Linked DNA regions of Homo sapiens: regions 1 and 2 are each linked to region 3. Evidence: fine-mapped expression QTL. A gene starts in region 3. Each other region holds a variant in brackets. All regions are shown on one strand. Distances are between the middles of the regions. Region 1 overlaps ARID1A (AT-rich interaction domain 1A). Region 2 overlaps GPATCH3 (G-patch domain containing 3). Region 3 holds the start of NUDC (nuclear distribution C, dynein complex regulator).

The links. PIP is the estimated chance that this variant, and not a neighbour inherited with it, causes the effect. A credible set is the group of variants that fine-mapping cannot tell apart.
Region 1: its variant is the best candidate, but not a certain one, in a credible set for the expression of NUDC in fibroblasts (GTEx, PIP 0.64).
Region 2: its variant is the best candidate, but not a certain one, in a credible set for the expression of NUDC in skeletal muscle (GTEx, PIP 0.50).

What each region holds. Positions count from the first base shown.
Region 1 is chr1:26,780,526-26,784,709 of GRCh38, forward strand. ARID1A (AT-rich interaction domain 1A) reads left to right here. Exons shown (of 20, transcript NM_006015.6): 20 at 1-1,579. The coding sequence ends at 231. Among named protein-coding and RNA genes, the nearest start is that of PIGV, 5.3 kb to the right of the region's middle. The variant C/T (reference allele first, on the strand shown) is at 2,426.
Region 2 is chr1:26,894,112-26,898,295 of GRCh38, forward strand. GPATCH3 (G-patch domain containing 3) reads right to left here. Exons shown (of 7, transcript NM_022078.3): 2 at 3,190-3,614; 3 at 125-299. Among named protein-coding and RNA genes, the nearest start is that of GPATCH3, 4.3 kb to the right of the region's middle. The variant C/T (reference allele first, on the strand shown) is at 2,404.
Region 3 is chr1:26,920,075-26,924,258 of GRCh38, forward strand. It overlaps NUDC (nuclear distribution C, dynein complex regulator), which reads left to right and starts at 1,669. Exons shown (of 9, transcript NM_006600.4): 1 at 1,669-1,855; 2 at 4,015-4,092. The coding sequence starts at 1,775. RefSeq lists a silencer at 1,416-1,565 and enhancers at 1,696-1,815, 1,936-2,477.

The sequences.
Region 1 (4,184 bases), 140 kb before region 3:
CAGAGCCAGGCCAGCCTCCTCCACATGCAGAACCCACCCTTTGAGCCAACTAGTGTGGACATGATGCGGCGGGCTGCCCGCGCGCTGCTTGCCTTGGCCAAGGTGGACGAGAACCACTCAGAGTTTACTCTGTACGAATCACGGCTGTTGGACATCTCGGTATCACCGTTGATGAACTCATTGGTTTCACAAGTCATTTGTGATGTACTGTTTTTGATTGGCCAGTCATGACAGCCGTGGGACACCTCCCCCCCCCGTGTGTGTGTGCGTGTGTGGAGAACTTAGAAACTGACTGTTGCCCTTTATTTATGCAAAACCACCTCAGAATCCAGTTTACCCTGTGCTGTCCAGCTTCTCCCTTGGGAAAAAGTCTCTCCTGTTTCTCTCTCCTCCTTCCACCTCCCCTCCCTCCATCACCTCACGCCTTTCTGTTCCTTGTCCTCACCTTACTCCCCTCAGGACCCTACCCCACCCTCTTTGAAAAGACAAAGCTCTGCCTACATAGAAGACTTTTTTTATTTTAACCAAAGTTACTGTTGTTTACAGTGAGTTTGGGGAAAAAAAATAAAATAAAAATGGCTTTCCCAGTCCTTGCATCAACGGGATGCCACATTTCATAACTGTTTTTAATGGTAAAAAAAAAAAAAAAAAATACAAAAAAAAATTCTGAAGGACAAAAAAGGTGACTGCTGAACTGTGTGTGGTTTATTGTTGTACATTCACAATCTTGCAGGAGCCAAGAAGTTCGCAGTTGTGAACAGACCCTGTTCACTGGAGAGGCCTGTGCAGTAGAGTGTAGACCCTTTCATGTACTGTACTGTACACCTGATACTGTAAACATACTGTAATAATAATGTCTCACATGGAAACAGAAAACGCTGGGTCAGCAGCAAGCTGTAGTTTTTAAAAATGTTTTTAGTTAAACGTTGAGGAGAAAAAAAAAAAAGGCTTTTCCCCCAAAGTATCATGTGTGAACCTACAACACCCTGACCTCTTTCTCTCCTCCTTGATTGTATGAATAACCCTGAGATCACCTCTTAGAACTGGTTTTAACCTTTAGCTGCAGCGGCTACGCTGCCACGTGTGTATATATATGACGTTGTACATTGCACATACCCTTGGATCCCCACAGTTTGGTCCTCCTCCCAGCTACCCCTTTATAGTATGACGAGTTAACAAGTTGGTGACCTGCACAAAGCGAGACACAGCTATTTAATCTCTTGCCAGATATCGCCCCTCTTGGTGCGATGCTGTACAGGTCTCTGTAAAAAGTCCTTGCTGTCTCAGCAGCCAATCAACTTATAGTTTATTTTTTTCTGGGTTTTTGTTTTGTTTTGTTTTCTTTCTAATCGAGGTGTGAAAAAGTTCTAGGTTCAGTTGAAGTTCTGATGAAGAAACACAATTGAGATTTTTTCAGTGATAAAATCTGCATATTTGTATTTCAACAATGTAGCTAAAACTTGATGTAAATTCCTCCTTTTTTTCCTTTTTTGGCTTAATGAATATCATTTATTCAGTATGAAATCTTTATACTATATGTTCCACGTGTTAAGAATAAATGTACATTAAATCTTGGTAAGACTTTTGTGAAGCTTTTTATTGTTTTCAAACTAAAACTTGACCTTTTGTCGGGGGGCAGGGGGATAGTCCTGTTTTTGCAAACCTCCCTTAGTGTGAGATCTCCCCTAAATAGTGGCATTCCTGGACCCTGTCATTTATTTACTATATTCCAAAATAAGACAACCATTTATCTGGAGGCAATCTCCAACTTAATCACTTATAATATCTCTGGACTGGCTCTTTTCCCTGACTCCAGACTAGAGCATTCAGCCACCTTTCTTGTCATCCCTGCTTGGAAGTTTACTTTGAACATGCCAAAGCTAAAATGTCCTGTCTTCCCCCACTAGAAACCTGCTTCTCCCATAGTTTTGGTTTTTTTGTTTGTGTTTTCCTTTTAGTAAATGGCAACTCCATTCTATCACTTGGCTAAAAAAATCCTTGACTTCTTTCACTTCCACATCCAATCTGTTAGCACTCTTCATAAAATAATCCTCAATCCCACACTACTGTAGTTCAAGATACTGTCATATCTTGGATTCTTGAAATACCTCCAAATTGGCCTCCCTGCTTCTGCTTTGCCTGGTTGAACCTATTCTCAACAGAGCAACCAAAAGGACCCCTATAAAAGGTAAGTCAGATCAAACGCCTTCAGTGCTTCTGACTCAGTAAGTAAAAATCCAGACTCTTAAAAAGTGGCCTACAAGGCCCTGAGTTATCTAGCTTACCTCTACCTTTCCTGCACCATCTGTCTTGCCCGTTGCTCACCCCACTGTATAGAGATGTTTCCACCTTGGAGTCTTTGTACTTTATACTCTCTCACCAAATAACTGCATGGCTCAAGTCCTCGACTGCTTCAAGTCTTTGT[C/T]CAAATATATAAGTAAGGCTTTTCATGGTCACCTTACTTAGAATAGCAATCTCTGCCCCCCACTATGTTTCCCTTGTCTGCCTTATTTTTCCTGTGGCACTTGTTACTGTCTGGCCTGTTGTGTGTTGTACTTACCTGTCACCTTCCACTGAAATGTAAACTGAGGGTGGTGGGAGGGGTGTTTTGTTCACTGCTGCATCCTGGTGCTAACACATAGACTGGCACATAGCATCTACTTAAGTAGTAGTTGAATGATACTGTCGATGTTGGCTAGATGCAGTTGCTTTTATGAGGCTAATGTCACAATATATAGTTTCTCTGTTCACCCCCTTCCTTAGGGAAACAATAGAGAAGCCTCAAGTTCCTCAGGAGAAATCAGAAGCAGAAAGAGAAAAAATGCTATCATTGTGGACACTTAGAAGTGAAATTTGAAACAAGAAACAACAGTTTTCTATTGTGTACCTACTTATATTCTGGACATAGCACATCACAATCCTACAACAATCCTGTGCCTGTGAAGTCAGTATGTGGCTCCCATTTTACAGTTGAAGAAAGAGGCTAAGAAAAGTGAAAGGCTTTTTAAGTTCATACACCAAGCAAGTTCCACCTGACTCCAAGGATCATGCTTTTCTTAATATACCACACTACCTCCTTTCTGGATGAGAACCCAACCCAGGAGTAAGGGATCTAGCTGTGGAGCTCAGCAAGCAAGATTTGTTTTTATTGTCTTTAGCACGAGGTAAAATTGTCCTCAGAATTTCAATCAAGTGTTCATCAGACTAAGTGTGGCTGTTAATATTTGGGTCAGGAACAGGATTTGAATAATTAGTATTTCTCAATTGAGAGAGGAAAACCTTTGTCAACCAAGATGCGTTCCTAGGATTCTTCTAGAAAAAGGTAAATGGGAAGCTTTTCATATCTACAATTTTGGTAAGCAATATTGCTAATGGCTATTTTTGTTCTAGGCCTCGAGCTCCGTTTGCTAGTCTAGAAATTGCATATCTGGGCTGTGTGTGGAGCATTACCTAGGAGTTCGGTTTCCTGGGTTCCTTTCATCTGCTCTCCTGCAATGCAGGGAGAGCCTAGCCTGGTCTCCAGTTTCTGACTGGAGTTACCATGGCCAAGAGAACTGCTGGCCAGTGAGCTGTGAGTAATTTGCTTTTGAGAAGTAAATAGAACCTAGCCAGCAGAGAACCCAGGGGTGTGGCCAGTAGTTCTTTTCCCAGGCTCCTCCCTCCCCACCCCCCAAATGACCTTAACCTTCTTTCATAGCTGGAGAGCAGCCAAGTCCAGCCTAAACAATACTCTCAACCTCATTGGCTCTTTTGCCTTGCAGCCACTGCCACCCCCAAGTGGCTAAGGCCTTCCCACTAGGCCTCTCAGTGGGGTCAAGGTTTTCTAACCACTGAAAGGCAAACACTGAAGGAATGGTGAAAAATACCTAGTGACCATGGGCTTTAAATGATGAGTGTTTGGGTACTGCAGTTGGAGGCAAGGCAGAGTCTTTGTCCTTGGGTGGATGGGCATCTTCAAGTGATCGGGCAGAGGCCAAAAAGGATGCTTTTGGTATATGAGACCTGACTGGTGTCACCCCAAGTGTCAGGATGGATGTAAATGTCACCCAGCATCTTGGAAACTGCCAATGAATGCCTTTTATCCCACAGCAAAAAGAAGTAGCATAAAGTTCTGGTAAAGTACAGCAGGCCAGTATGGTCACTTTCGCCCCACAATGGCATGACATCAGAGCCAGCATCCCAGA
Region 2 (4,184 bases), 26 kb before region 3:
GAGGTCAGCCTGTTCCCTAGCCTTTTGTTTGGGCTCACCACTACAGAATCTACCGTGTGGAACAGGGAACCCCAAAAGAATGCAGCAGGGGTCACCCCTGCCTTTGCCTGGGTACCAGCATTACCTCCTTCTTCCTCCTGCCAGAACTGGGCATCAGTATAAAACACCAGGCCAGAGCCACCCTTCTCCCACTTGAGCTCAATCTCCTCCTCAAAGAGCTGCTCAGTGGTCCGCTCCTGCCCGGTCACGTCCTCATGCAGCGCTTCATGCCGTTCCCATTCCTCACCCCGGTCATCGTCCTAAAAGGCAGGGAGAGGTGATTTGCCTGAGCTTCCTGACCTCATGCCCCGAGGGAGGGAAGCTCAGGGCACAGGAGGCATGTGTGGCTAGCCTCAGCGCCATTCCTTCAGATTTCTCCAAGAAGCAGCACATATTTGGCCCCTGACCAACACGTCTCCAGCCCGATAATTCTCAACAGTTTGCTCCTGTCCCCACAAGCCTGACTCACCTCTGCGCGTTTGGCCATGTTGTTCCCTGCCTGAAATACCCACTTTCCTCTCCCACACCCTTCTCTTCTCCACTTGATTAAATCCTCCTCATCCCTCAAGTCATACAGCCTACATGAAGCCCCCCACATTTAGGCCCACAGCTCTCATACCAGTCTCTGAACTCCCAATGCTAATCAGTACACACTGGTTAGGCCTTTTTATGTCATATCACAAAGAAAGAATGGACAATAATGCTTATTGTCTCTGGTGTGTCAGGCCCTTCCCATAGCTTAGCTCCTTTAACCACTGCAACAACCCTATGAGATAAGTACCATTATTCCCATTCTACAGATGACAAAACCTAGGTTCAGGGGAGTAAAAAGTTCTTTGTCCAAAAGAGTACACTGAGGGAGCAGCAGAGCCAGCAATGCAAACCCGGGTGGCCACATCCAGGTGCAGCATCTCCAGATGCTGGTTCTTTCTCTTCAGGGAGATTTTAGGCTCTTTGAGGGCAGGAAATGGGTCTTAGAATGCCTTTGGAATCCTACACTAGCCCTTGGCTTGACGGGACTTGTGGAATGATACAATGACTCCTAGCTTGAAACCCTGTAGGCCTTCAAGTGCTGAAGAAAAGTCAGGATGGGGCCAGACGCAGTGGCTCACGCCTGTAATCCCAGCACTTTGGGAGGCCAAGGTGGGAGGATCCCTTGAGCTCAGAGGTTCAAGACCAGTCTAGGCAACAAGTCAAAACCCTATCTCTACAAAAAATACAAAAATTAGCCAAGTGTGGTGATGTGTGAGTGTAGTCCTAGCTACTAGGGAAGCTGAGGTGAGGATGGCTTGAGCCCAGGGAGTTGGAGGTTGCAGTGAGCTGAGATTGCACTACTGCATTCCAGCCAGGACAATAGAACCAGAGCCTGCTTAAAAAAAAAAAAAAAAAAAAAGGAAAGGAAGGAAGGAAGGGGAGAGAAGAGGAGAGGGGAAGTCAGGATGGTACCACACTAGGGATGTGGTCCAGATGTCTTAGCAATCTTGGCTGGGAGCTTTTTTTTTTTTGAGACAGAGTCTCACTCTATCGCCCAGGCTGGAGTGCAGTGGTGCGATCTCAGCTCACTGCAACCTCCACCTCCTGGCTTCAAGTGATTCTCCTGCCTCAGCCTCCCAGTAGCTAGGACTACAGGCACCACGCCTGGCTAATTTTTGTATTTTTAGTAAAGGTGGGGTTTCACCATGTTGGCCAGGCTGGTCTCGAACTCCTGACCTCAAATGATCCACCCATCTTGGCCTCCCAAAGTGCTGGGATTACAGGTGTGAGCCACTGCACCCAGCTGGCTGGAAGCTTTGAAACATGGGTGAATTACTTTTTACCCGGAGTACACATTTTTAAAAAAGTTTTCCCAACAAATCACACCTTACTTGATTTTATGGATGTGCAACCAAGTTTGGAGAAAGGAACCAAAGAAATGTCTATGTCACTAATGAAGTGAGAGTGGAGGCTACTGTTCAATCTGCTGACTCTAGGTCAGAAAATAGAGATGACTGTTCAGCCACATTATGACAGCACGCACAGGTTAGAGAAGAAGCAAGAACTGGGTTCATATCCCAGCTCTACCTCTATTTCCTGAGATGATCTTAGACAAGTCACTGCACATGTTTTGGTCAGCACATTTTCATCTATGAAAATGAACTCTCCTTATCTGGTCTTTCATGTGGAATTTTTTTTTTTTTTCTCAGCTCACTGCAACCTCCGCCTCCTGGGTTCAAGAGCTTCTGTGCCCGGCTGGAAATAATTTTTAAAAAAGAAAAAATGGGCCTGGCGCAGTGGGTCATGCCTGTAATCCCAGCACTTTGGCAGGCCGAGGCAGGTGGGTCACGAGGTCAGGAAATTGAGACTATCCTGGTTAACACGGTGAAA[C/T]CCTGTCTCTACTAAAAATAAAAAAAAAAAAAAAAATTAGCCGGGCGTGGTGGCACATGCCTGAAGTCCCAGCTTACTCGGGAGGCTGAGGCAGGAGAATCACTTAAACCCAGGAGGTGGAGGTTGCAGTGAGCCGAGATCGCACCACTTCACTCCAGCCTGGGTGACACAGTGAGACTCTGTCTCAAAAAAAAAAAGAAAAAAATGAATAAAGAGGAACCATCCTGGCCAGGCGCAGTGGCTCACGCCTATAATCCCAGCACTTTGGGAGACTGAGGCAGGCGGGTCACGAGGTCAGGAGATTGAGACCATCCTGGCTAACACAGTGAAACCCCGTCTCTACTAAAAATACAAAAAATTAGCCGGGTATGGTGGTGGCCGCCTGTAGTCCCAGCTACTTGGGAGGCTGAGGCAGGAGAATGGCGTGAACCCAGGAGGCAGAGCTTGCAGTGAGCCGAGATCGTGCCACTGCACTCCAGCCTGGACAACAGAGCAAGACTCCGTCTCAAAAAAAAAAAAAAAGGAACCATCCTTATATATCCCTTCCAAGGGAATGAAAAATAAGACCCACTTACGAATCTTCTGGTAAAAGCTCTGGACCATCTCCCTACAGAAATACAGAAACACACATGCAAATATAGTTTTACATTCCTTCTTGGACTCCTTGGAACCCTCCTGAGGACCCCAGGTTAAGAACCCTTGTAATAGACAATTGAAGAGTGGTATTATTAATGCCTTCGGCCTCTTTCAGCTGCCAGCAAGGACAGGGTAGCACACTGTACTCACCTCATCTGAGTGAGACTCTTCTTCCTCTTCCTTCCCCACTTCTTCCTCAGGCTCTCCACAGGGGCTGGCTGGTATATCTGCCAGGTAGGTTCCTTGGGGTATTTCTTCACCCTCTGCTGTATACACAAGCTCTTCCTGCTCCACAGTCTCTGAGTCCTCATACTCAAAAGGCACATTGCCGTAGCGCCGGGAGGAACCTGTCTTGGGGAACTGGAGCTGCAGCTGGGTGATGATCCGAGGGGGTAGGCGGCAGGCCCGGATCAACTCCAAAAAGACCCGCAGGGGAGTCCCCACATTCCCTCTGGGCATCAGCACTGGTGGGTTCAGCTCCGGCAGTTGCTTCAGGTCAGCCAGGGTGAAGGCTTCATTCTCTGCCTTCCAACTCTGCAGTTCCTTCCGGGTCTTGAAGGGAAAGGAGCCCAGACCTTGGAAAGGAGGGAGAATAGATCTTGAAACCCAGAAGCCTCCAGCAACACTTGAGCCAGAAATTGGCCAATGTTTAAATCTGTTAGCCTTTCCCTAGTAAACATCTAGTAAATCCCTAGTAAAAATCTAGGCCGACACAGTGGCTCACGCTTGTGATCCCAGCACTTTGGGAGGCTGAGGCAGGAGGATTGCTTGAGCTCAGGAGTTCAAGACCAGCCTGGGCAAAATGGTGAGACCCTTATCTCTACAAAATATAAAAAAATTAGCTGGGAGTGGTGGTGCACCCTGTGATCCCAGCTCCTTGGGAGGCTGAAGCAGGAGGATTGCTTGAGCCTGGGAGGTGAGGCTGTAGTGAGCCAAGATTGCACCACTGCACTTCATCTCGGGCGACAGAGTACCCTGTCTCAAAAATAAATAAATAAATAATAAAATAAATCCATTAGCCTCATGCTGTTCCTCCCTCTCAAACTTCTCCAGGTCTTTTCATCTCTCCCCAAGCGGAACTACAGAACTACCTAGTAGTTTCATGTCACTTCTCATCACCTTGGCTGGGCATACAAGTTTCTTCC
Region 3 (4,184 bases):
AAAAAAGGAAAGAAGAAGGCGTCAACTGTGTCAAATGCACCTGAGAAGTTGAGTAAGATAATAGTGGTTCATTGGCTTTGGCAATATGTAGCACTGTAACCATATCAGAGCCTTTAAAAAATAGACTAGAACAGGCCGGGCGCAGTGGCTCATGCCTGTAATCCTAGCGCGTTGCGAGGCCGAGGCAGGTGGATCACTTGAGGTCAGGAGTTTGAAACGAGCCTGGCCAACATGGTGAAAACCCCTCTACTAAAAATACAAAAAAAAATTAGTTAGGCGTAGTGGTGCCTGTAATCCCAGCTACTTGGGAGGCTGAGAATCACTTAAACCTGGGAGGCAGAGGTTGCAGTGAGCTGAGATCGTGTCACTGCACTCCAGCCTGGGCAACAGAGTGAGACTTGGTCTAAAAAAAAAAAGAAGAATAGATAGACTAGAATATACTGTAGAGAGATGGGAGGTGAGGGAGTAGAAAAACAAGCAAACAAGTTTGCTGCAAATGAGAGCTGAAAATTGGAGAGGTAGCAGCAGAAGAAAGTGGGGCCATGGAATAATAATATAAAAACAGGGCTGGGCATGGTGGCTCACACCTGTAATCCCAGCACTTTGAGAGGCTGAGGCAGGAGGAGTGCTTGAGACCAGGGTTTGAGACTTAGCCTGGGCAACACAGACTCCATCTCTACCAAAAAACAAAAAACAAAAAACAAAAAAAAAAAAACAGCAGGGCGTGGTGATGTGAGCCTGTAGTCCCAGCTACTCTGGAGGCTGAAGTGGGGAAGATGGCTTGAGTCCAGGAGTTCAAGGCTGCCGTAAGCCAAGATGGTGCCACTGCACTCCAGCTTGGGTGACAATGCAAGAACCCCATCTCTAAAAACAAACAAAAAGATATTAAAGCGTGTTTGTAAATTGAAGGGAAGAAGAAAGATATTTGTGATGCATAAGCTAAAAAAAGGGATAATTAACAGGGATAGAGTTCCTGAAAAGACTAAGATGATGAGATTCATTGCACAAGTGGAGGGATTAGCTTGGATGGCTGGGTCCTGTCCCCGCATTAACAGAAGTGAAGGTCAATTTCAGCACCTGTCATAATTTCCTGGGCCCAGTGCAAAATGAAAATGTGGGTCTCCTTATTCCAAAATTATTAAGAATTTCAAGACTATAACAGAAGGCCATGAAATCAAGCGTGGAGCCTTTCTAAGCCTGGGTGCTGTGCGACTGCAATTTGTACTCCCATGAAGCTGGCCCTAGTCAAGTACGCAGTGAGGTCGATGAGGAGGAGGCTGTCCTGTGGTAAGTCCCTTCTAGGATTGGAAGAGATGAGTAAGGCTACTTTCAGCTTCACTGCTCTACAAGCTGGGGGGGTCGCTAGCAAGGGAGAGGGGCAAAACTTGTCCCTTTTTAACTTCCAACCCTGCCAGATTTGAGTCCAGGGCTTTCTAGAAGTCTCCACGGCATCGGGTGACCATAGCAACTCATGCCAAACTCTCGGGCCCACGGCTCCGCCTACCGCTTCGTGGACGCGCTTGTTGATTGGCTCCGAATGTCGACCAATGGTCGGCGAAGCGGGTTGCTTGCCGCACGGTCAATGGCCGCAAACCGGGAGGAAGGCGGGAAGAGAGGAGGTGGAGGCGGGCCTGGGCAGCCGCGCGCGTGCGTGTTTCCGGCTCCGCTGCGGAAGGCGGACGACTAGAGTCGTTGGGCCCGGCGCGACCCGCAGGAGCGTAGAGAGCGCGGGACTAGAGTGCAGAGCTCCGGGACGTGGATCGGAGCCGGCGCGATGGGCGGAGAGCAGGAGGAGGAGCGGTTCGACGGCATGTTGCTGGCCATGGCTCAGCAGCACGAGGGCGGCGTGCAGGAGGTAACGGCCCGCGCGGCGTCGGCCCACCCGGCGGCCTTGGCCACGCTCCTTCCGCCCTTCTCTGCCTTCGAGGGCTGAGACCCACCCCAGCGGCTCGCGGGCTTCTGGGATGCCCCTACATTCTCACTGCGCCCAGCTTCCGGCCTGGCCACCCGCCAGCAGGTCTCACCCGGTTCGCATCAGTCCCGGGCCCCCGGCGCCCCTCAGTAGTAGCAAATTATCGCATCCCTGAGCTTAGGATCCCCCTTTAGTTTCACATATGCCCCCACCCCCGTTTCCACTTTGATGGCGGCTTCCAAGGAGCATCCCTTAGTAAGAACCGTCGCAAATATCGTGATTTGGATCCACCAAGGCTTGGGGCGAGCCGTCGAATGTGTGTGGTAGGGGAGCGGGCTGATGTTAGCACGTGGTCTTGTTAGGCCTTGAATGGGGGAATAGGAGGCCTGTGTTCACGATTAGTTTCCACCACCTACCAACTTGGAACCTTTACATCTCTCCAAGCCTGAGTTTCCTTATCTGTGAGACAGCTGCGAATACCGGTTTCCAGAGAGTAGTTAAGAACCGTAAGTTCTCAGTAATAAGGCTTTTTCATTCAACAAGTATTTGTCGTGTGATTGATGTGTGTCCCACACTCGACAATAAGGGCCAACTGTTACAGATTCTGGAGTTGGTTTTTTTGGAACAAACACAAAGTTAACGGTAGAAAAGTCTGTCAGGATCAGAACTCTCATTCTCAGAGCCAGAGAAGTGGCAAGGATTTGCCTAGATCATGCAACATGGTTCTCACCTAGACAGGTCAGTGTGCTTCCCAGAGTCCATGGCTGATTGTGTCTTACTGGAGGTAGGTTTCCATTGAACTTTCTATTCCTATGTAACCTAGGTGTCTGGTGACCAAGGACTTCTAAGCCCTTTGTGGTGGGGAGAGTGTTTCTCATTTGCAAGTGTGAAAAGCCTTCCTGTCTCCATTCCTCTAAACTGTTCGCACAAAACTGGATTTGGGAGCGAGTTCATTTTTGAGCAAATTGAAAAACTGTCTAGAAGCAAGAACGGAAACCATTGAGATATGTTCTAGCATCAGATTTAATCAGATTTAGACCCACTCTTGGGCAAATAAAGGGTTTGTGTGTGCTGACCTTGAGTCACCACTAGATTGTTTCATTCAGCAAGAATTTTACTGATTATGTACCTTTAGCCATATCTGGTGCCCAGCATTGCAGGTGGCAGACAGACTAAGCCATGGTTCATGGTTCCTATTTGTAAGGTGTTTACCCTCTGCCAGTGGGTCTCTTGCTCTGTGCCATACATTGCTAAAGGCCTCACCTCCTTGACCTCATGATCCTCACCAGGTCCCTAGAAATAGGTACTGCATCTTATTCCTGTTGTACAGAGTTAAGAAACTTCTGCAAAGTCAAAAGGTAATATATGTCCATCTGATACTCAAACCGTTGGCTACACTTGTACTCCAGCCAGAATTAATCCATCTTATCCTCCTTTGAAGTGGCTTCATTTGCTCTCCTCCTTCTTGCTTTGACCCGGTAACTTAGCCAGTGTCTTTTTTTTTGTTTAGACAAGAGTCTCTCACCCAGGCTGGAGTGCGGTGGCACGATCTTGGCTCACTGCAACCTCTGCTTCCCGGGTTCAAGTGATTCTCTGCCTCAGCCTCCCAAGTAGCTGGGATTACAGGTGCCCACCACCTGTAATCTAGCTAATTTTTGTGTTTTTAGTAGAGACGGGGTTTCACCATGTTGGCCAGGCTGGTCTTGAACTCCTGACCTCAAGTGACCCGCCCACCTGAGCCTCCTGAAGTACTGGGATTATAGGTGTGAGCCAGTGTCTTGATGGGCTTTTTACTTTCTGGAGAGGAAAGCTGGGCCCAGGCTTTTCATGCCCTGGATGCAGAGGAGTGTTCCATACGCTTAGGCTGCTTCTAGCATCACAAGGAAAGTGAAAGGCGCACACACACACAGGATATGAGAAATCTGCTTCATGGTGGAAGTGACTAAGAGAACCTGCTGGGGAGATAATCTCCTCAGTTGGGAAGCTCAGAGGAAAAATAGTCAAGTCCCAAGTTCCCTCCTAGACAAAACAAGTTGACTTGTGTGCAGTTGAAGGGCTCCCAAATGCAGCTCTACTACTTTAATCTTCTCCCCCTCTTTCAGCTTGTGAACACCTTCTTCAGCTTCCTTCGACGCAAAACAGACTTTTTCATTGGAGGAGAAGAAGGGATGGCAGAGAAGGTAAGTGTTGGAAACCACTGTCCTTTGGGCGGCTCTGTCTCTTCAGAAGAAAAGCTCACCTGGCCTTTCTTTGGCATAATAGTAACTTTCAG